Linked DNA regions of Homo sapiens. The protein of the gene in region 2 purifies or fractionates together with the protein of the main gene of each other region. This does not show direct contact. Each region holds a gene or a part of one and is shown on either strand. Other genes may lie near its edges.

Region 1 (7,035 bases), on a different chromosome or scaffold from region 2:
AGGAGGAAGTGAGTACAGGTTGGGAGGAAACAAAATTGGCCATGTAATGCTGAAGTATAGTGATGAGTGCAGAGATTAATCATACTATTCTGCTTAAATATATTCTAATTTGCAGATTTATGGGGGGTTTTGTGAGAATGTACTTATCAGTTTCCCAGTAATTATGTTCTTTATTTCTGAACCGGAGTCCTTTATTTTTTAATTGTTTAGAATTGGAGAAAGAAATTGAAGAACTCAGATCAAAACCTGTTACTGAAGGAACTGGTGATATTATTAAGGTAATTATTACGTTGGGAAATGTCTAAAGAGAAATAAAATTTCCCTGAGGATTGTCAGTCTGCTAGAGGCTATCTGGCTTTCTGTTTCTGTTCTACTTCCTCTCTGCCTTGGTTGTTTTTACCTATCTGATTCACTGTAAAAAGAGGGGGTTAATGACCTCTGGGTCTCTTTCTGTTCTGAAATTATTATTCTACTCTCTTCCCACGTATTTTCTTTTTTCTTTCTTTTTTTTTTTTTTTTTTTTTGAGATGGAGTCTCACTCTGTCACCAGGCTGAAGTGCAGTGGTGTGATCTTGGCTCACTGTAACCTCTGCCTCCCGAGTTCAAGCAGTTCTCCTGCCTCAGCCTTCCAAATAGCTGGGACTACAGGCGCCCGCCACCACACCCAGTTAATTTTTGTATTTTAAGTAGAGACGGGATTTCACCATGTTGGCCAAGATGGTCTTGCTCTCTTGACCTCACGATCCGCCCGCCTCAGCCTCCCAAAGTGCTGGGATTACAGGCGTGAGCCACCACGCCCAGCCCATATTTTCTAATTATGGTTGTTACTTCATTCTCTGCTCTTCCCCAGCCCCCTGAAAACCTGGCCATGCTCAGGACTTAAGTGATTTTAGGTGTACAGTATATAATCTATAGATAGATCCATATCCCTGGACATGTCTACTGACCCAGATCTCACAGTTGTGTTTCCCTCTCACACATTTCACTTATCTCATCAAACTCAACCAAATTGCTTCCCTTGGTTAGACCAGTGGCACCACAGTTTTTTATACCTTTTGACTTTAGAGACACTTTAACTTCTCTGTTTCCTTTATTCTCTATATGTGTCAGTCACCAGAGACCTATTATAGCTTTAAGATATTGTTCCAGTTTATCTTTTTTCTCTCTATTTCTATGGCTTTATGTTAAACACATCAAATACTTAACCTATTTCAATAAAAACCTCACTGGGTTCTCTTTCTCTTTTTAGTCTTATATAATACTGCCAGATAACAAAATATTGTTTTTATTCCCCGTTTAAAAACCTGAGTTGCAGGCCAAATGCAGTGGCTCACACCTGTAATCCCAGCACTTTGGGAGGCCAAGGTGGGAGGATCACTTGAGGTCAGGAGTTTGAGATCAGCCTGGCCAGCATGGTGAAACCCTGTCTGTACTAAAAATACAACATTTAGCTGGGCGTGATTGCCCACACCTGAAATCCCAACTACTCAGGAGGCTGAGGCACGAGGATTGCTTGAACCCAGGAGGCAGAAGTTGCAATGAGTTGAGATTGAGCCACTGTACTCCAGCCTGGGCAACACAGCAAGACTCCGTTTTTAAAAAAAAAAAAAAAAACACAAAAAATCTGAGTTGCTTATTCTTATTTCCACTCCCTTAATGCTAACAAATGCTTTTTCATTCCCTCACTTTCATTGCCCGCCTTAGGCCAAGCTTCTGTAAAGTTTCTTTTACATCTCAGAGCTCTGAAATACTGTTTTCACTGCTTTTGCATAATATCCGTTGGTTATATATTTATTTATTTTTATTTATTTATTTATTTTGAGACAGAGTCTCGCCTTGTCGCCCAGGCTGGAGTGCAGTGGCACAATCTCGGCTCACCGCAAGCTCCGCCTCCTGGGTTGACGCCATTCTCCTGCCTCAGCCTCCCAAGTAGCTGGGACTACAGGCACCCGCCACCATGCCTGGCTAATTTTTTGTATTTTTAGTAGAAACAGGGTTTCACCACGTTAGCCAGGATGGTCTCGATCTCCTGACCTCGTGATCCACCTGCCTCGTCCTCCCGAAGTGCTGGGTTTACGGGCGTGAGCCACTGCGCCCAGCCTGGTTATATATTATCTTATTTTCTCATCAGTGGCTCCCCACTTGTGAGCAGTGAACTACTGAGGGACTCCCAGAGAGTTATTACAAGGGGTCTTTAAATCCATATGCATGTCACACAGTATCATTTTGTTCTTTATTTAGTTACAGTGTATGAAGCTAGAATGATGTGCACAAATGTCATTTCATTTTATAATGTACTGTTTCATTTAAGTATTACTGAGTTCACAGTAGTCTTCTTTGTATATTTAGTCATTATATGTTTTCTTAATCCATGATAGCCACAGTACAACTATATGTTAATTAAGGAAGAAGGTCGATAACACCCAGACTGCCTGAGTCAGGCTTTCAAATCCTTGTTCATCTACTGATCAGCTGTGTGACCTTGACTAAGTTTCTTAAATTCTTTCTCTATGATTCAGTTTTGTCATCTGTAGAACAGCGATAATAATACTTTCTGTTTGTAGGATTGAGGTACAAACAGGATTGATGTAGAAATGTAGGATTGATAAGGTAATATATCTACTGCACATAGAACTGGGTTGGTCACATAAGTACCCAATAATTGTTAGTTATCATTGTTATTACTACCATTTATTATTTCTGGGGGATTTTTTTTTTTCTTGAGATAGGATTTCTCCCTATCGCCCAGGCTGGAGTGCAGTGGCGTGATCTCCGCTCACTGCAACCTCTATAGAGTGTTAGAAAACACTCTAGAAAGTTTTTTATCCATTAACTCTTATAATACTTTTTACAGAATTGCATTTCAGAATAAGAACATTTAAATATCTACCTGCTGTTTCCTCCTTATCACTCATCAATGTATTCTCCCACTGTCAAAACTACTCCTAAAGACAAGATTAGAAAATTTCAGCCAGGCTCGGTGGCTCACATCTGTAATCCCAGCACTTTGGGAGGCTGAGGCGGACAGATCACCTGAGGTCAGGAATTGGAGACCAGCCTGGCCAACTTGGTGAAACCCCATCTCTACTCAAAATACAAAAATTAACCAGGCATGGTGGCACGCGCCTATAGCCCAAGCTACTTGGTAGCTGAGGCAGAAGAATCGCTTGAACCGAGGAGGCAGAGGTTGCAGTGAGCTGAGATAGTGCCACTGCACTACAGCCTGAGCAACAGAGTGAGACTCCGTCTCAAGAAAAAAAAAAAATTCTCCAAGTTAGCCAACTTTACCTTTAAGGTTTTTTTTCTTTTCCTTCTTTTTTTTTCCTGATCCATTATATTTATACGTATTCATGGGGTACATGTGAAATTTTGTTAAATGCACAGAATATATAATCATTAAATCAGAGTATTTACTATCCACAGCCAGGTATTTATCATATATATGTGTTGTGTACATTTCAAGTCTTCTGGCTATTTTGAAAAATATTTATCTTTCCCTGTCTTAGATTTTACTTAACATAATGACCTCCAGCTCCATCCATATTCCTGGAAATGGCGTGATCTTATTCTTTTTTATGGGCATATAGTATTCCATTGTGTATATATACCACATTTATCCATTCATCCTTTGATGGGCACTTAAGTTGATTTCATGTATTTGCTATTGTGAGTAGTGCTGCAATAAACACAGGAGTGTATATATCCCTTTGTTATATTGATTTGTTTTCAATGACTACCAATATTGGGGTTTTTGGATTGTATGGTAGCTCTATTTTTAGTTTTTTGAGAAATCCCCAACTGTTTTCTTTTTTTTGAGACGGAGTCTTGCTCTGTCGCCCAGGCTGTAGTGCAGTGGCATGATCTTGGCTCACTGCAAGCTCTGCCTTCCAGGTTCACACCATTCTTCTGCCTCAGCGTCCTGAGTAGCTGGGACTACAGGCGCCGGCCACCAAGCCTGGCTAATTTTTTGTATTTTTTAGTAGAGATGGGGTTTCACCATATTAGCCAGGATGGTCTCGATCCCCTGACCACTTTGGGAGCCAGCCTCGGCCTCCCAAAGTGTTGGGATTACAGGCGTGAGCCACCGCTCCTGGCCTGAGAAATCCCCAACTGTTTTGTATAGTGACTATGCTTACCTACACTTCCACCAACAGTGTAGAAGAGTTCTTTCTCCACATTGTCATCAATATCTGTTACTTTTTTTCTTCTTAATAGCCATTCCTTATTGTGGTTTTGATTTGCATATCCCTGATGATTAGTGATATTGAGTATTTTATCATATACTTCTTGGCCATTTCTTTGTCTTTTAAGAAATGTCTATTCATGTCCCTTGCCTATTTTTTAATGGGGTTATTTTTTAATGTTGTGTTGTTTGAGTTCCTTGTATACTCTGGGTATTAGTCCCATATTGGATGAGTAGATTGCAAATATTTTGTCCCATTTAAGAGGTTGTCTTCTTCATGCTGTTGATTGTTTCTTTTGCTATGCAGAAGCTTTTTAGCCTATAATCTCAGCATTAAGGGAAGCCATGGCAGGAGGATCACTTGAGCCGAGCAGTTTGAGACCAGCCTGAGAAACATAGCAAGATCCGTTTCTACAAAAAAATATAAATTAGCCAGACATGGTGGAACATGCCTGTAGTCCCATCTTCTTGGGATGCTGAGATAGGAAGATCACTTGATCCCAGGAGGTTGAGGCTGCTGTGAGCCATAATCACACTTACTGCACTCCAGCCTGGGTGACAGAGGGAGCCCTTACATAAAAAAAAAAAAAAAAAAATTTAAGATGCCTTTCAGTTTAATGTAGTCCTATTTGTCTGTTTTTGTTGCCTGGGCTTTTGAGATCTTAGCCATAAAATCTTTGCCTAGACCAATGTCTTGATGCATTTGCCCTGTGTTTTCTTCTTTTAGTTTTACACTTTTGGGTCTTATATAATATAAGTCTTTAATCTATTTTTGTTGATATTTGTATCAACTAAATGGTGAGAGATAGGGACTCACTTTCATTCTTCTGCATATAGTTACCTGGATTTCCTGGCACCGTTTGTTAAGAGGGTGTCGTTTGCCCAGTGTGTGTTCTTAATGGCATTGTCGAAGATCGGTTGTGTATAAATATGAGGATTTATTTTTGGGTTCTCTATTTTGTTCCATTGGTCTGTATGCTTGTTTATATACCAATACTTTGTTGCTTTGGTTTCTATAGCCTCGTAATATGTTTTGAAGTCAAGTAGAATGATGCCGCCGCTTTATTTTTTAACTCAGAATTTCTTTAGCTTTTCTGGCTTTTTTTTTGGTTTCATGAAAACATTAGGATTCTTTTTTCTGTTTCTTTGAAAAATGGTGTTGGTATTTTAATAGGGATTTCATTGAACTGTACATTAGTTTGGATAGTATGATCATTTCAACAATATTTTGTGAGCATGAAATGTCTTCCTGCTTATTTGTGTTCTCTTCAGTTTCTTTCATCTGTGTTTTTGTAGTTTTCATTATAGAGATCTTACACTTCTTTGGCTTTTGTTTGAGCTACTGTAAAAGGTGTTGCCTTCTTGATTTCCTTTTTTAGCTATTTTATTGTTGGTATATAGAAATGCTACTGGTTTTTGTATGTTGAATTTGTATCCAGCAACCTTACTGAATTTATCAGCTCTAAGAATTTTTTGATAGTCTTTTGTCATCTGTAGAGAGGGACAGTTTAACTTCCATGTTTCCAGTTTGGATGTCGTTTATTTCTTTCTCTTGCCTAATTGTTCTGGCTAGGACTGTCAGTCCCATGTTGAATAGTAGTGGTGAAAGTGGGCATCTTTGTCTTCAGTTCTTAGAGGAAAGATTTTCAGCTTTTCCCCATTTTTGTGTGATGTTAATGTGAGTTTGTCATATGTGGCCTTTATTATTTTGAGGTATAATCCTTCTGTGCCTAGTTTGCTAAGAGTTTTTATCCTGAAGGGATGTTGAATTTTATGAATTCCTTTTTCTGCGTCTAGTGAGATGACATACGACTTTTGCCCTTTATTCTGTTGATGTGATATGTCACATTGATTTGCATATATTGAACCATCCTTGCATCCCTCGAATAAATTCATTTGATCATGGTGTATTATCTTTTCAATGTGCTGTTAGATTTGGTTTGCCAGTATTTTGCTGAGGATTTTTGCATTGGTGTTCATCAGGGATATTGGTTGTTGCTTTCTTTTTTTTTTTTTTTTTTTTGCTGTGTCCTTGTCTGGTTTTGGTATCAGGGTAGCACCAGCTTTCTAGAATGAGTTAGGGAAAATTGCCACCTCTTCAGTATTTTGGAGTAGTTTCAGGAGGATTGGTATTAGGTCTTTATACATTTGGTAGAATTCAGTGTGCATCCATCTGGTTCTGGGCTTTTCTTTGTGGGGAGACTTTTTATTACTGATTCGTTCTTGCTACTCATTATTAATTTGTTCAGGTTTTCTATTTTTTCCTGGATTTTTCTTTGATAGGTTGTATGTTTCCAGAAATTTATCCATTTCCTCTAGGTTTTCCAGTTTGTGGGTGCATAGCTGTTCATAATATTCTCTGATGGTCTATTTATTTCTATGAGAATGGTTGTAATGTCTCCTTTTTCATTTCTGATTTTATTTAGGTCTTCTTTTTTGTTGTTGTTAGCCTAACTAGTAGTTTATCAATTTTGTTTATCTTTTTGAAGAACAAGCTTTTCATTTTGTTGATCCTCTGCCTTTTTTAAAAGTCTCTATTTCATTTAGTTCTGCTTTGATCTTTATTAGTCGTTTCCTTCTGCTAATTTTGGGTTTGGCTTTGGCTTGTTCTTTCTGGTTCATTGAGGTAAATCATTAGATTGTTTGAAATCTTTTTACTTTTTGGATGTAGGCGTTTATTGCCATAAACTTAGTATTCATGTCCTGCTTTTGTTGTATCACACAGGTTTTGTGATACAAAAAATCACATAGGTTTTGTGATACAAAAGCACTGCTTTTGTTGTATCACATAGGTTTTGGTATGTTGTAGTTTCCATTTTCATTTGTTCCAAGAAATTTTTTGATTTTCATTT
Region 2 (7,397 bases):
GAGCTCAGGAGTTCAAGGCCAGCCTGGGCAACATAGCGAGACCCCTGTCTCAATTAAAAAAATAAATTATTTTTAAAAAAAACCCACAGGTCTAACATAACCAAGACTAGTCACCAGCAATACTACTTAAATAATCATTTCCCAAATTTACGACTACAGAACCTGCATGATGTTGGTGTTACCTGAAGAGGAGGCTTACAAAATTTGAGAAACCCAGGGTAAATTTATTTTCTTGCAGGCTATCTCAGTGTCTTTAACATGTTAACATGTACTGTAAATCTCTAAGAAGCAGCATTTTCCAAACTTCCTCAATCTCCTGGGTGCGGTGGCTCACACCTGTAATTCCAATACTTTGGGAGGCTGAGGCGGATGGATCACTTGAGCCCAATTTCGAGACCAGCCCGGGCAACATGGCAAAACCCTGTCTCTACAAAAAAATGTAATAAAGTAAAAAATATGAATAAATAAATGAGTTAAAATTCCTCATCCAAGCAACTTTTTAGAAACAGGGTCTCACTTTGTCACCCAGGCTGGAGTGCAGTGGTGTGATTATGGCTCCCTGTAGCCTTGAGCGATCCTCGTGCCTCAGCCTCCCAAGTAGCTAGGACTACAGGCAGGCACCACCATGCCCAGCTAAATTTTTGGAGAGACAGGGTCTCACTATATTGCCCAGGTTGGTCTTGAACTCCTGGCCTCAGGCGATCCTCCTGTCTCAGCCTCCCAAAGTGCTTGGATTACAGGTATGAGCCACTGCACCCAACCAAAAAATATTTTTAACTCAAAGGTCCCACAGAACGCTTTGAGATATTCTCCCTTAGATTAAAATAGCTTATCTCACCTAAAGATCTCTACTGCCTTACTCCTGCTAGCATCCTTGAAAAGAGGATAAAAGGCCAGAAAAACACATTTTTTGAGAGAGTAGAAGCCCTTGGGCTCAAAAATCTCAGAACATACTGCCTCATACATCAAACACCTTACTTGAGTGACCAAGTCACTTTTTGGGTTGAGACAGTAAGAATTACACAATCCATCCTGTTTCTCTTTTCATCATGTCAACTTGGAAGACCAGAGTTCAATCAGAGTAAACTATCCTTAGTCTGGGTTTCTGGGATAACAGCCCCTCATCCTCTGATGTTCTCAAACCTCCACTAACCATCATAATGGCTTGTATCATAAGTTTATTCTTCAGAAAGCACTTATAAATTACCCAGATAGTACTGTGCTGCTGCCCGGTTGGTATAAAGGACAGCATTCAAATCAGGATCTGCACATTTCTTCTTTAAGCCTTCAGTGTATGAAATTACAGCTTTCTTGTAGTCTTTTTCTTTAAAGTAATCATTGCCCTCATCTTTATAGGTCTTGGCCTGTTCTGCAAAGAAGAGGAAAAATAATCACTATTGCTTACTTTTTAAAAGGCTCATTAAAAATAGATTCTAAATCATGTAATAATGTACTATATGACACACCAAAGCGAAGAAACCAATAGGGAAAGGAAACTCGATGTTATGATAAAAGTGGGTATCAACATGGACAAAGTCGCACAAATGTAATGCTAATTCCAAATATCTTACAAGGTAGATTACTAAGTGCTTTCCAAAAAAAAGAAGTATAAAGGAAAAAAGTACACTCATCCTAGCTGTTGAAGAAAAGAATTTTTTTTAATCACTGAAGAAATCAGTGAGGGGCAGGGGGATTGATTATACTTCTGCTTTTGCTTATGTTGTTTATTCTGTGGAGTGCAAATTCCCCTCCTCACCCTAGTAAAAGCCTACAAAATTACAAAGATTCAGCTCAAATTTCCTATCTATTGTGAATCCACTCCTGCTCCTTAAAGTGTTCCAACAGGACCCACTACAGCTGTAGTATACACCTACATGTTGACACTTATAGCATAAGTTTGTCTTGATTCTTTAAGACAAAAGGCTTCTCACTGAGCCTGACCTTGGAGGGTGGAACTGTGTCTTATTCACCCCTGTATCCCCAGTCCTTACCACTTAGTAGGTACAAAAAGAAGTATATTGGAATGAATAATGACAAGTTAGCTCAGGCTAACTACTTCTTGTTATCAATCAGAACGCTTCTAACCCACACTTAATTTCAGTTCAATGGAAACACAAAACAAATATTAGTCATGTTAAGATACCTTCTGGAGAACGCTCCTCATCAAAAATAATTGACTGGAGACAAGCCAAGTCAGGATTCTCCCTGGGATCAATTTCTGATGGCGCTCTCGACATAAATAGGGGGACCTTTTCAAATTCCTGTAAATGGTTAAGAATGAACTACATGAATAAGCTTTTCTACTGAGCAGATCCAATTCCATGACTCATTACCAAAGTTTTTTTACTCATCATGATTTGCAAATCATCACAGCTAGCTGTATCCATTCAGGCCTCCGCTTCCCTTCTGTAAAATGGGAGTGTGGTGTAATGGTCTCTAATGATTGTTTTAGTTCTCACATTCTACAAGAGCGGCAGGAATTACCATTAATTGAGCGCCCTTATGTTCTTGGCACTTTACCAACTGTCTCATTTCATCTTTGCTATTGGTGATATAGTTCGCGCAGTTTTACAGATGAGGAAACGGACTCTGAGAAGTTAAGTAACTGACTCATATCAGAGCCAGTTAAGTGGTGGAGTCACAGGCCTGACTCCAAAACCTAGGTTCTCAGCTTAAGAAGCGACTCAAAACCTCGAGGCCGATTTTCAATACTCAACTAGAAACCAGCGATCGGCTGGCAGCGCCAGGGATCTGGGATTGAAGGAGGTGCCCCAGAGCCCGGGTGCCCCACGAGTCCGGACGACGCCCCTACACACGTGGGGAGACCCCAGGACCGCCCACCTTCTCCCACTGGTCCTCATGAAAGCCGCCACGGTAAGGCTGGCTCTGGAACTTTTCCAGGAACGAGTCCATGACGTCGTCTGAGGTGGGATCCTGCCCAGGTTGTTCCATAGCTGATGCCCTGCCTTCCAGCCCGGGTCCCAGCGCCGTGAAGCGAGCGGCTCCTTCCGGCGGCGCGGGTTCCCTTCCCTCAATCCTCCCGGCAGCGCAGGTCCCCGCGCCTTGGGTTCCGCCGGCCTGGGGGCGTGGCCGGGCGTGGCCAATACGCTCCTCCCCCGGCCCGCCCTCCTCGGCAGTGCCTGGCCTCGCCCGGCCTTCGAATGCTTTTGGGGTGGTGCGTGAACCCGAATCCCCAAAGCCCCCATCTCACTTCATTCATTTGTTCGTCAGTCAGTCAACACATACTTACTTAGCTCTTTCTGCGCTTCCGGCCTGTTCTAGTGGCTGGCTATATAGCGGTGGGCAGAGCAGATGAAATCTCTGCCCTCTAGGAGTTGCTAAGGCAGTGGGGAGGAAACGACAATAGTTGAGATGTAAGAGTTTGTCAGGGGTAGCAAGAGCTATTGGGGAAAAGTTTTAAACAGGATGGGTAGACATTCTGCCAGAGGCCTGGGAGTGACTAGGAGGGGTCTGGGAAAGGCATTCCCATGGAAGGAACAGGGAACAGTCCGGAAGCCTGATGCGGGAGAGTCTTCTGTGCTTGGGGAACAGCAAGGAGGCCAGTGGGGCTGAAGCAGAGTGAGGAAGGGGGCAAGGAGATGATGAGGTGGGAGGACAAAAGGGCTGTGACTATGAGGATTTGGCTATTTCCTCAGTGGTATGGGACCTTTTGGAGAGTTTCGAGGAAAGGAGAGACTGATCAGACCTCTGTCTCTGAGCTTAGCCACCCCTAACTCCCACAGTTCAGATGGAAAAGGGTCTTCGGTCCAGGTGCTGCAGGCCTGGTTAGGCAGCCGCTGTGGCTTCCTGCAGCCTCTCTACCGGCCAGCAAATGGCTGCAGGTCCCTGCACCGGGGCTACAGCCTTGGGGAGCTCCTAGCCTGGTCTGGAATGAAAAGCAGACAGGAAGCACACCAATCTAAACTGGCATTGGGTCACAGGTCTGCTCAGTGAAGGCTCAGAGGGGTGGGATTCAAGGTGATGCAGAGCTGAGATCAGAGCTGAGGAAGGTCTCTGCAGATGGATAGAGGACTCAGCGTTTTAGGCAGTGGGAGCTCATATGTGGAGAGAGGCATGGAGGTGTGCACAGGCCCGCCATGCTGGGTACTGCAAGTGTTAAGAGGTGTGTCCAGGGCCGGGCACGGTGGCTCACGCCTGTAATCCCAGCACTTTGGGGGGCTGAGGCGGGCAGTTCATGAGGTCAGGAGTTCGAGACCATCCTGGCTAACACAGTGAAACCCCGTCTCTACTAAAAATACAAAAAATTAGCCAGGCGTGGTGGCACGCACCTGTAGTCCCAGCTACTGGGGAGGCTGGGGCAGGAGAATCGCTTGAATCCGGGAGGTGGAGGTTGCAGTGAGCCGAGATTGCGCCACTGCACTCCAGCCTGGGCCACAGAGCAAGACTCCACCTCAAAAAAAAAAAGAGGTGTGGCCGGCAAGTGGGTAGGGGCCAGAAGGCCTGCCTGCCTCACTGACCTTGGTCCTGCAGAGGATAATGAGTCACTGAAAAGACCTAAGAGGAGCAATGGCCGTGAGCACATTTGTCTTAGGAAGGCCTGGGCTGCCAGGTGAAGCATTGATGGGGGGAGGTTGGTTAAGAGATTGACAAGGAGGATGCTGATAAGAGACCAAGGTAAGACAGAGATCTGAAGCCCAGCAGTGGAGCTGGCAGGGTAGTCATTCTTTGATATGGGGATGGAGACAGCATGGCTAAGGATGGCGCATGGGGACCATGAGCCTTCCAGTGCCAGGACTTTATCTTTTCCCTTCTGATTCTTCCACACCCAGCAGAACATCTGGTCCTAGCACTCCCTTCCCTCCAAATCCAAACCTCCTTTTCCACACTTCCTCCTCCAGCCCTGCTCCCTAATCCTGGTTCCCTCCCTTATTCTCCTCTTCATCATCTTTTCCTTTACTGAGTCCAGAGCCTACAGAGTCTTTTTGCTTTCTTTTTTTTCTCATTTGATTCCCATAAGAACACTGTGAGGTATGAACCCATTTTATAGGTAACAATAGGGGAACCTAAGAGAAGCAAAGTGACTTGCCCAGCACACTCTGAACCTTCCAACTCAAAACTACTTAGTGGTCTTGGCCGATAACTGAGTCGATCAGCCTTTGCTGTGCTTAGGGGCCACCCAGACCCAAAATATAGCAGCTGTCATCTGTCAAGGCCACCCTAGACCTGGGTCCTAGCCCATGAAAGCAGAAGTGGTTCTGGGTGGAAGGGTTCAGGTATAGGAGTCTGGAGATCTTCGGGACCTACACTTCCATTAGTTACCTTGCATGACCTTGGGCAAGGCCCATCCCTCATTAAGCTGTGTCCTCATCTGTGGAATGTGGGCAATAAAGCCAGTCTGCCTTCCCCATAATCCAGTCTGCCTTCCCCATAATCCAGTCTGCCTTCCCCATAATCCAGTCTGCCTTCCCCATAATCCATTCTGCCTTCCCCATAATCCACAGGGCTACTGTAAGACTCCAAGGAGGCAATGTTTGTGAACATTCTCAGTGATGGAAAGGATTGTGCAAATGAATCTCCCCATTTCCTACTCTCTCTCTCAGGCCCAGAATACCAATGGCCTGGGCTACCATTTATTAGAAGATGATTGTGTGGTCAACATCATGGGTTCCTCACCCCCAACAGGAGCTTAAGTTAGGTGCTCCACAGGCTGATGTCTCTGCCCACTCTACATACTCTCCCAGGGAAATTGTACCCCAGCCCCTACACACAGATGAATCCCAAATCTGCTTCCTTCTCAGGTCCCTCAGCTGAGCTCCACCCGTGTCCCTTTGTGCCCGCCATAGTCTATTCAGGCTGCTATAACGGAATACCATCAACTCTGGTGTGTAAACAGCAAACATTTATTTCTCACAGTTGTGGAGGCTGGGAAGTCCGAGATCAAGGCCTGGCAGATTCGGTGTCTGGTGAGGGCCTGCTTTCTGGTTCACAGATGCCATCTTCTCAGTGTCCTCCCATGGTGTGAGTAGTGAGGGAGCTCTCTGAAGGCTCTTTTTTATAAGGGCACTAATCCCATTCACTAATCCCTAATCACCTCTCAAAGGCCCCCACCTCCTAATATAATGACCTTGGGGGTTCGGATTTCATATGAATTTGCAGGGACACAGCATTCAGACCACAGCGGCAGCCAACTGCCCTGTGGATATCTCCACTAGCTTGCTGCACAGTCCCTCAAGCTTACCATGCCCATATTGAACTCATCCCCTGCCCCACAACCTGCTCCTGGTCCTGGGTTCACCACTTAGTGTGGGCTCCATTGGCTTAGTCATCCACCCAGAAATCTGGGTGCCAAACTCAGCTCCTCCCTCTCCCTCCTCCCTCCTCCATTCTGTCAACCACTAGGCTCTGAAAATCCCCTTCCTCAGTCTCCTGCAGGCCTGGCCATCCTCTCCATTTTGTGCTGCAAGGTCTGGTCACTGTTCTCTCAGCAGTTTCTGGCTAAGTCTCCCTGATGGTGCTCTTGTCCACCCTGCCATCCAGCCCTTTCACTCCATGACATAGTGAGCTTCTTCTGCTTCCTTTTTTATTTACTCCCTTTTATACCCCAAAGCCCTCCTCCTTACCCTAATCAATCATTCTAGCATGTTTTATTAGCATTTTTTTGTTTTGTTTTATAGAGATGGAGGTCTCACTATGTTGCCCAGGCTGGTCTTGAACTCCTGGCCTCAAGTGATCCTCCCACCTTGGCCTCTTAAAGTGTTGGGATTACAGGCATGAGCCACCACACCTGGCCTCTAGTGTGTTTACTGTGTCTTCTCAGTTTCTAAGTGTTCTTCCAAAATGTGAATTCTTTTGTGTGTACATTCTTTTTTTTTTTTTTTTTTTTTTTTGAGATGGAGTTTCACTCTTATTGCCTAGGCAGGAGTGCAATGGCGCGACCTTGGCTCACTGCAACCTCCGCCTCCCAGGTTCAAGCGATTCTCCTGCCTCAGCCTCCTGAGTAGCTGGGATTACAGGTATGCGCCACCACGCCTGGCTAATTTTGTATTTCTAGTAGAGACGGGGTTTAACCATGTTTGTCAGGCTGGTCTCGAACTCCTGACTCAGGTGATCCACCCGCTTCAGGCTCCCAAAGTGCTGGCATTACAGAAGTAAGCCACCGCGCCTGGCCAACTTTTGTGTATACATTCTTGATACACTTTTTCCCCTCAGCACTGGGTTTTAGGTCCCATCTGGCAGCCCCGAACTGCTGTGCAGGGCTCCACGGCACACATACTCTCCCAAGGGGTGGATACCCAGGCTGCCTCCTCTCCCCACCACCACAAAGAACACTGATCAACTTCCTCATGCATCTCTCTTTATGGACCTGTGGAATATTCCCCCGAGCTATGTATCCATGAGTGGAACTGCTCAGTCGTGGGTATGCATGAACTTAATAA
Region 3 (7,211 bases), on a different chromosome or scaffold from region 2:
TTATTCTTTTTAGGTGGAGAGATAAGAAAAACAGAAACAGAAACATTTATCAGGATTTTACTTTCTGAGATTGTGTTTCTAGTGATATACAATACCTCTTAAAAAAATACATGAAAAAAATGTACCTGACACCAATTCAGCCACAAAAGGAAATTAAAAAAAAATGTTAATTGAGCAGCCAACTGATGCCACGTACCACCTGAAGCACATCTATAGTCTATAAGCCTGAAAGGTACCCGACATCACCATGTTCCAACTACTAAATGGCAGAGTCAGGACACTTACCAAGGACTACCTAACAGCAAAGCATGCTTTGTGATTTACTGTATGCTTGAGCCAAATTATTTAGCTCTTCTCAGCTTCCGTTTTCTCAGGTGCAATATAATTAACAGTGCCTATCTCAAAGAGTTGTTGTGAGAATTAAATGAGATAAGCATATAAATACTTGCCACAGCATTTGTATAGAGTCAATATAATTATTCAAATTTCCTCACAACATTTAATTATGTTGACAAATCACAACTGATTAAGCCATTCTTTTAAAAAATGATATTTGGGTTATTCCCAACTTTTTGCTCCTATAAATGATGCTACAAACAAACAGCATTTTTGCAAATATAACTTTTATTTTCTGAGGCTTTAGGATAATTTCCAAAATACCAGCTCATAAAGTATTAGTGTATTTGTGCCTCTTGCTACAAGTTACATGGAAATATTTTAGATTGAGTTGCTGAGAAGGGGGAAGAAGAAAAGAGAACCCTACACATTAAATGTCCTACAGTATGTACATTAATACATTTTTCTCTATAAGACCTCAGGCTACTCTCTCAACTTTGAACACCATCAGTTCTGGTGTCAAAGTCAAGGTGTAGGTCACCCAACATGCTGGGTTTTTAAATCTGGCTTTTCCAGATCAACCTGCCACCATTTAATGAAAAACTCCACAGGAAAGATGAAGGAATGTTCAAGGTTTTCCTCCTCATGCACCAAGCTGATCCTTTGTATTCACATATCCAAAAGGTATGCAAATTGGCTAAAATGAAAGGGCTGATTGAACTTTGGCAGTCAAAACTCATCTTTGCTGATAACATGACGTAGACTTAAAAGAAGCATATGCAATTGATATTGTATGTATATCTTCATGTTTTAACATCATCTATTATCAGAATAAAAAGCCTTTGAAAATCAAATGTGATCTTTCTCTAAAGAGAAATCTCGACAAGTTAATAGGCATTACAAACTGAATTTAAAAGCAAATAAGAGTTTTAAGTGAGGGTGGAGGGGCAGGTAAAAATGCCACTGATTAATATTTACCTTGAAAATGGCTTGCTTTTCTTGCTGTTGCCAAGAATGGTAGTTCCTGCTGGCCCTAGTTTGGCACTCTCTCGTAACCAGTTGGCAGGTGGGAGTTTCAAGTCTGTTTTCTCTTCAAGGCGTGCAAATGCTGTTCGAGGAGGGGCAGAAGAGTATTTCACCACAGCTCGGCTCTTCACTTCATTGCCTCCAAGAAATAAAGCTGATCCCTAATTAACACATTGGGTGAAACTTTAATGAAAATTACTAAGAACGAAAAATCTCACCTTTATAAAAAGAAAACAAGAACCTGTCACACCAGGCTTCACAAGGAACGTATGCCACATGTTACTAACAGCACTTAATAAATTTGAGCATAAATGGTAACATTTACTTAGTTCTTTTACACCAACTTCAAAGAAAAAAGATGAGTCAAGGAGTATGATGGTTATGGTTATCAGCTAGAAAATGGACCACCCACATCTCTTTTAAAATGTATTCATGTAAAGTGGAGAAGCAGAAACCAAGGAGACTCAATGGTATCATGTTAACTAGATGCAAACTTTAGTAAAGCCTATTTTCAGTATTAAAGATGTATTTTAATTCTTTTTTTTTTTTTTTTTGAGACGCAGTCTTGCTTTGTCGCCCAGGCTAGGGTGCAGTGGAGCAATCATGGCTCACTGCAACCTCGGCTTCTGGGGTTTACGCCATTCTCCTGCCTCAGCCTCCCTAGTAGCTGGAATTACAGGCGTGCACTACCACGTCCGGCTAATTTTTGTATTTTTAGTAGAGACAGGGTTTTGCCATGTTGGCCAGGCTGGTCTCGAACTCCCCGACCTCAGGTGATCCACCCACCTCGGCCTCCCAAAGTGCTAGGATTACAGGCGTGAGCCACCGCGCCCGGCCAAAGATGTATTTTAATTTTAATAACACATCATTCATAAAATAGTCTGGTAGAACATTTGGGCTTTTTGTTTTAATGCAAATATTTAGTAATCGATGCATCGGTTCATGCATGCATGCATGGTTCAAATACTCTTGAGTCTCTAACTTCATAGAAAGGCATTGGGGGTTCGTTCCTCACAGCCTGCACTTGCACACTCCCAAAGCAAGTTCGGCGTCTGGGTTCAATATTCTAACCTTTCACGCAGTACCTCTTCTGCATGGCAAACATTTTACACCCTTTGTGAATTAGTTCGGTCTCATTCTCGGCGAGTCACTACCTGGCACCGTTTCTTCCCTCCTGCTTTGCACGACTGTGCCACGTTTTGGAACGACATATTTACATGTACCCTCCTTGAGAGGAAAGATCGTATCTAATTCACCTGTCGGCTACCAGAACTGCTTTTAATACGAATACCTGCCGACTGGAGCATGGACTTCAACTCCCTGTTTTGGGGGTGTCAGGGAAACATGGAGAAGCCTCCAGAATCTGCCGGGAACCGTGGCATCCCTCCCCGGTGGAGCGGGTCCTCCGCTCCCACATCCCTGGCAGGTCCCCCTCCGCGGAGGACTCACCTGTGCAGAAGATTCCTCGGATTCTCCCTGGGACAGGAGGCTGAGCCCTCCTCGAGCGGCGGCCCCGGCCGGCGGACCCTCGGCTCCGGCCTCCTTGGCATCCCCCATCACTTCGATCCAGGGCAGGCGATACGACGGGGGAGCGGAGGAGCAGCAGCAGCAACGCAGGCCCAAAGCAGGGTAAGCGCCAGAGACGCTCCGCGGACCGCACTTCCGGTCTCTGCCAGGAAGAAGTAGCTGTGACTCGCCATTAAATCTCGCGATCTTTGTCCCGAAGGCCCGGCCCCGCCTCCCGCTGCGGGTGCCACCTTCGCGGCCAGGGCGGGAATTGTAGTGCGCCTGCGCTTGTCCGAACCTCTTCGGGAGACTACTTCTCGCGGTATCTGACTCCTAGGCTCCGCCCTCTGCACGCCGCTCACGGTATCTGACGCTCAGGCTCCGCCCCCTGCATGTCTTTGTTGGCAAACAGTTCTGGGGGTCGTCCGATCCTGCAGGTAGTGTCCGCGTGGGAGGGGAGGTGCAGCCGTCAGCGCTGCCGGCGGCTCCCGTTACGTGAATTAGTGAGAGGTTCAAACTTCTTCCCCAGGCTTCAGTGTCACATCTTTTCACACGGGCACCCCGAGGGCCCGGACTGGAAAGGCGAGCCAGCCATCTCGAGACTGGGCGCTCCTGCCCGCCTTTTAGTGCCCATGTGGCCCCATCCTGGGTGTGGGAGCGGCGGGGCTTCCGGGGAGGGCGCTGGGACGCGCGGACGAGGCCCTCCCCGTTTAGGGAATGGGTGGCTTTCGGAGTCTTCTGGGGGCCCGGCATGCCCGCTGCTTGCGGGGCGTCCCAGGTGGTGCAGGACCCGTGAGACGCTGAACCTGGGGCCTCGTAACGCCTAGGTTTCCATTCGGGCGCTCTGGATGGGTCCGAGACTCGGCATTTCTCACAGGTTCCCAGGAAACGATGCCAGCGCTTTGAGTAGCGAAGAGGTGGAGAAATAGCCCGGGCCGTTTGCAAGCTTTGAAGGTCCAGGCTCTCTTTCACACTCCTCAGTGTCATCTCAAACTGTCAAACGCAGCCACATCCGTTATACAATACATGTTTTGTAGTAAAAGTGTTTTGTTGTGCCGTAAGATACAGAAAGTGTTTTTAAAAATTAACTTGGCTCTTGCAATTTGGCTGTCTCAATTTGTAATTCACGTTTGGCTCTTACAACTCACTGTCCTGTCCGTTTTCAGGAATGCTCCTGATGAGTAAGCATTCAACTCACAAATTGCTTTCAAATGTAACAAAACAATTTTATGAATTAAATTTAACAGGCCGGGCGCGGTGGCTCACGCCTTTAATCCCTGCACTTTGGGAGGCCGAGGTGGGCAGATTGCCTGAGGTCAGGAGATCGAGACCAGCCTGACGAACAGGGTGAAACCCCATCTCTACTAAAAATACAAAAATTAGCCAGATGTGGTGGTGGGCGCCTGTAATCCCAGCTACTAGGGAGGCTGAGGCAGGAGAATCGCTTGAACCTGGGAGGCAGAGGTTGCAGTGAGCAGAGATGGCAACACTGCGCTCCAGCCTGGGCGATAGTGAGACTCTGTCTTAAAAAAATAATAATAGTGAATTAAATTTAACAGTTAATTTGATATAATAGTGTATTTTGTAGACATTTACTTCAACATGTATTGATTTTGATTTTTATCATTTCATTTGAATATTGCAGCCAATAATTCTTTTTTGGTTTTTGCAAGTTATGCATTGTTTTTTATGGTGAAAAGTTGAACATAATATCTAACACTAGGAGGAGGATAGTCAAATTTGGTTTTGGTAGAAAATAAACCCTGTGCAACCATAAACTTGTTTTTCAGGAATATTTAAGAACATTTAAATTGCATATCATATAATGTTAAGTGATAAGTGAAATTTTAAAAAGCCAATATGCAGCCTAGCGCGGTGGCTCACGCCTGTAATCCCAGCACTTTGGGAGGCAGATGCGGGTGGATCACGAGGTCAGGAGATCGAGACCATCCTGGCTAACACGGTGAAACCCCGTCTCTACTAAAAATACAAAAACAAAATTAGCCAGGTTTGGTGGCAGGCACCTGTAGTCCCAGCTACTCAGGAGCCTGAGGCGGGAGAATGGTGTGAACCCAGGAGACGGAGCTGGCAGTGAGCCGAGATTGCACCACTGCACTCCAGCCTGGGCAGCAGAGCGAGACTCCGTATAAAAAAAAAAAAGCCAATGTGCAATATGATCTTAATTTTAAAAACGTCTCCATTTCTGTCTCTGTGTCCACAAAACAGACCTCTGAGCCGTAAAATGAAGTGATTTAAAATTTATTCTTTACATTTATTGATTTGCATATATTGAACTAGCCTTGCATCCCAGGGATGAAGCCCACTTGATCATGGTGGATAAGCTTTTTGATGTGCTGCTGGATTCGGTTTGCCAGTATTTTATTGAGGATTTTTGCATCAATGTTCATCAAGGATATTGGTCTAAAATTCTCTTTTTTGGTTGTGCCTCTGCCCGGCTCTGGTATCAGGATGATGCTGGCCTCATAAAATGAGTTGGGAGGATTCCCTCTTTTTCTATTGATTGGAATAGTTTCAGAAGGAATGGTACCAGTTCTTCCTTGTACCTCTGGTAGAATTCGGCTGTGAATCCATCTGGTCCTGGACTCTTTTTGGTTGGTAAGCTATTGATTATTGCCACAATTTCAGAGCCTGTTATAGGTCTATTCAGAGATTCAACTTCTTCCTAGTTTAGTCTTGGGAGGGTGTATGTGTCGAGGAATTTATCCATTTCTTCTAGATTTTCTAGTTTATTTGCATAGAGGTGTTTGTAGTATTCTCTGATGGTAGTTTGTATTTCTGTGGGATCGGTGGTGATATCCCCTTTATCATTTTTTATTGCATCTATTTGATTCTTCTCTCTTTTCTTCTTTATTAGTCTTGCTAGCAGTCTATCAGTTTTGTTGGTCCTTTCAAAAAACCAGCTCCTGGATTCATTAATTTTTTGAAGGGTTTTTTGTGTCTCTATTTCCTTCTGTTCTGCTCTGATTTTAGTTATTTAAACAGAACCAAAGACAAAAACCACATGATTATCTCAATAGATGCAGAAAAGTCCTTTGACAAAATTCAACAACTCTTCATGCTAAAAACTCTCAATAAATTAGGTATTGATGGGCTGTATCTCAAAATAATAAGAGCTATCTATGACAAACCCACAGCCAATATCATACTGAATGGGCAAAAACTGGAAGCATTCCCTTTGAAAACTGGCACAAGACAGGGATGCCCTCTCTCACCACTCCTATTCAACATAGTGTTGGAAGTTCTGGCCAGGGCAATTAGTCAGGAGAAGGAAATAAAGGGTATTTAATTAGGAAAAGAGGAAGTCAAATTGTCCCTGTTTGCAGATGACATGATTGTATATCTAGAAAACCCCATTGTCTCAGCCCCAAATCTCCTTAAGCTGATAAGCAACTTCAGCAAAGTCTCAGGATACAAAATCAATGTACAAAAATCACAAGCATTCTTGTACACCAATAACAGACAAATAGAGAGCCAAATCATGAGTGAACTCCCATTCACAATTGCTTCAAAGAGAATAAAATACCTAGGAATCCAACTTACAAGGGACGTGAAGGACCTCTTCAAGGAGAACTACAAACCACTGCTCAATGAAATAAAAGAGGATACAAAGAAATGGAAGAACATTCCATGCTCATGGGTAGGAAGAATCAATATCGTGAAAATGGCCATACTGCCCAAGGTAATTTACAGATTCAATGCCATCCCCATCAAGCTACCAATGACTTTCTTCACAGAATTGGAAAAAACTACTTTGAAGTTCATATGGAACCAAAAAAGAGCCCGCATTGCCAAGTCAATCCTAAGCCAAAAGAACAAAGCCGGAGGCATCACACTTCCTGACTTCAAACTATATTACAAGGTTACAGTAACCAAAACAGCATGGTGGTACCAAAATAGAGATATAGATCAATGGAACAGAACAGAGCCCTCAGAAATAACGCCGCATATCTACAGCTATCTGATCTTTGACAAACCTGAGAAAAACAAGCAATGGGTAAAGGATTCCCTATTTAATAAATGGTGCTGGGAAAACTGGCTAGCCATATGTAGAAAGCTGAAACTGGATCCCTGCCTTACACCTTATACAAAAATCAATTCAAGATGGATTAAAGACTTAAAACGTTAGACCTAAAACCATAAAAACCCTAGGAGAAAACCTAGGCATTACCATTCAGGACATAGGCATGGGCAAGGACTTCATGTCTAAAACACCAAAAGCAATGGCAGCAAAAGCCAAAATTGACAAATGGGATCTAATTAAGCTAAAGAGCTTCTGCACAGCAAAAGAAACTACCATCAGAGGGAACAGGCAACCTACAAAA

The links. The genes of interacting proteins can lie anywhere in the genome.
Region 1: the proteins of TTC4 (region 2) and GCC2 purify together in Homo sapiens (affinity purification with mass spectrometry; 4 studies listed by BioGRID and IntAct, with this or other methods). This does not show direct contact.
Region 3: the proteins of TTC4 (region 2) and EDRF1 purify together in Homo sapiens (affinity purification with mass spectrometry; 5 studies listed by BioGRID and IntAct, with this or other methods). This does not show direct contact.

The regions. Positions count from the first base shown.
Region 1 is NC_000002.12:108,452,189-108,459,223, forward strand, and holds part of GCC2 (GRIP and coiled-coil domain-containing protein 2), read left to right. Parts: intron 1-210; coding exon 211-278; intron 279-7,035. UniProt on the Homo sapiens protein: Golgin which probably tethers transport vesicles to the trans-Golgi network (TGN) and regulates vesicular transport between the endosomes and the Golgi.
Region 2 is NC_000001.11:54,711,464-54,718,860, reverse strand, and holds the start of TTC4 (tetratricopeptide repeat protein 4), read right to left. Parts: upstream 3,001-7,397; 5' UTR 2,953-3,000; coding exon 2,842-2,952; intron 2,262-2,841; coding exon 2,144-2,261; intron 1,370-2,143; coding exon 1,208-1,369; intron 1-1,207.
Region 3 is NC_000010.11:125,715,516-125,722,726, reverse strand, and holds the start of EDRF1 (erythroid differentiation-related factor 1), read right to left. Parts: upstream 3,019-7,211; 5' UTR 2,920-3,018; coding exon 2,812-2,919; intron 1,524-2,811; coding exon 1,315-1,523; intron 1-1,314. UniProt on the Homo sapiens protein: Transcription factor involved in erythroid differentiation. Involved in transcriptional activation of the globin gene.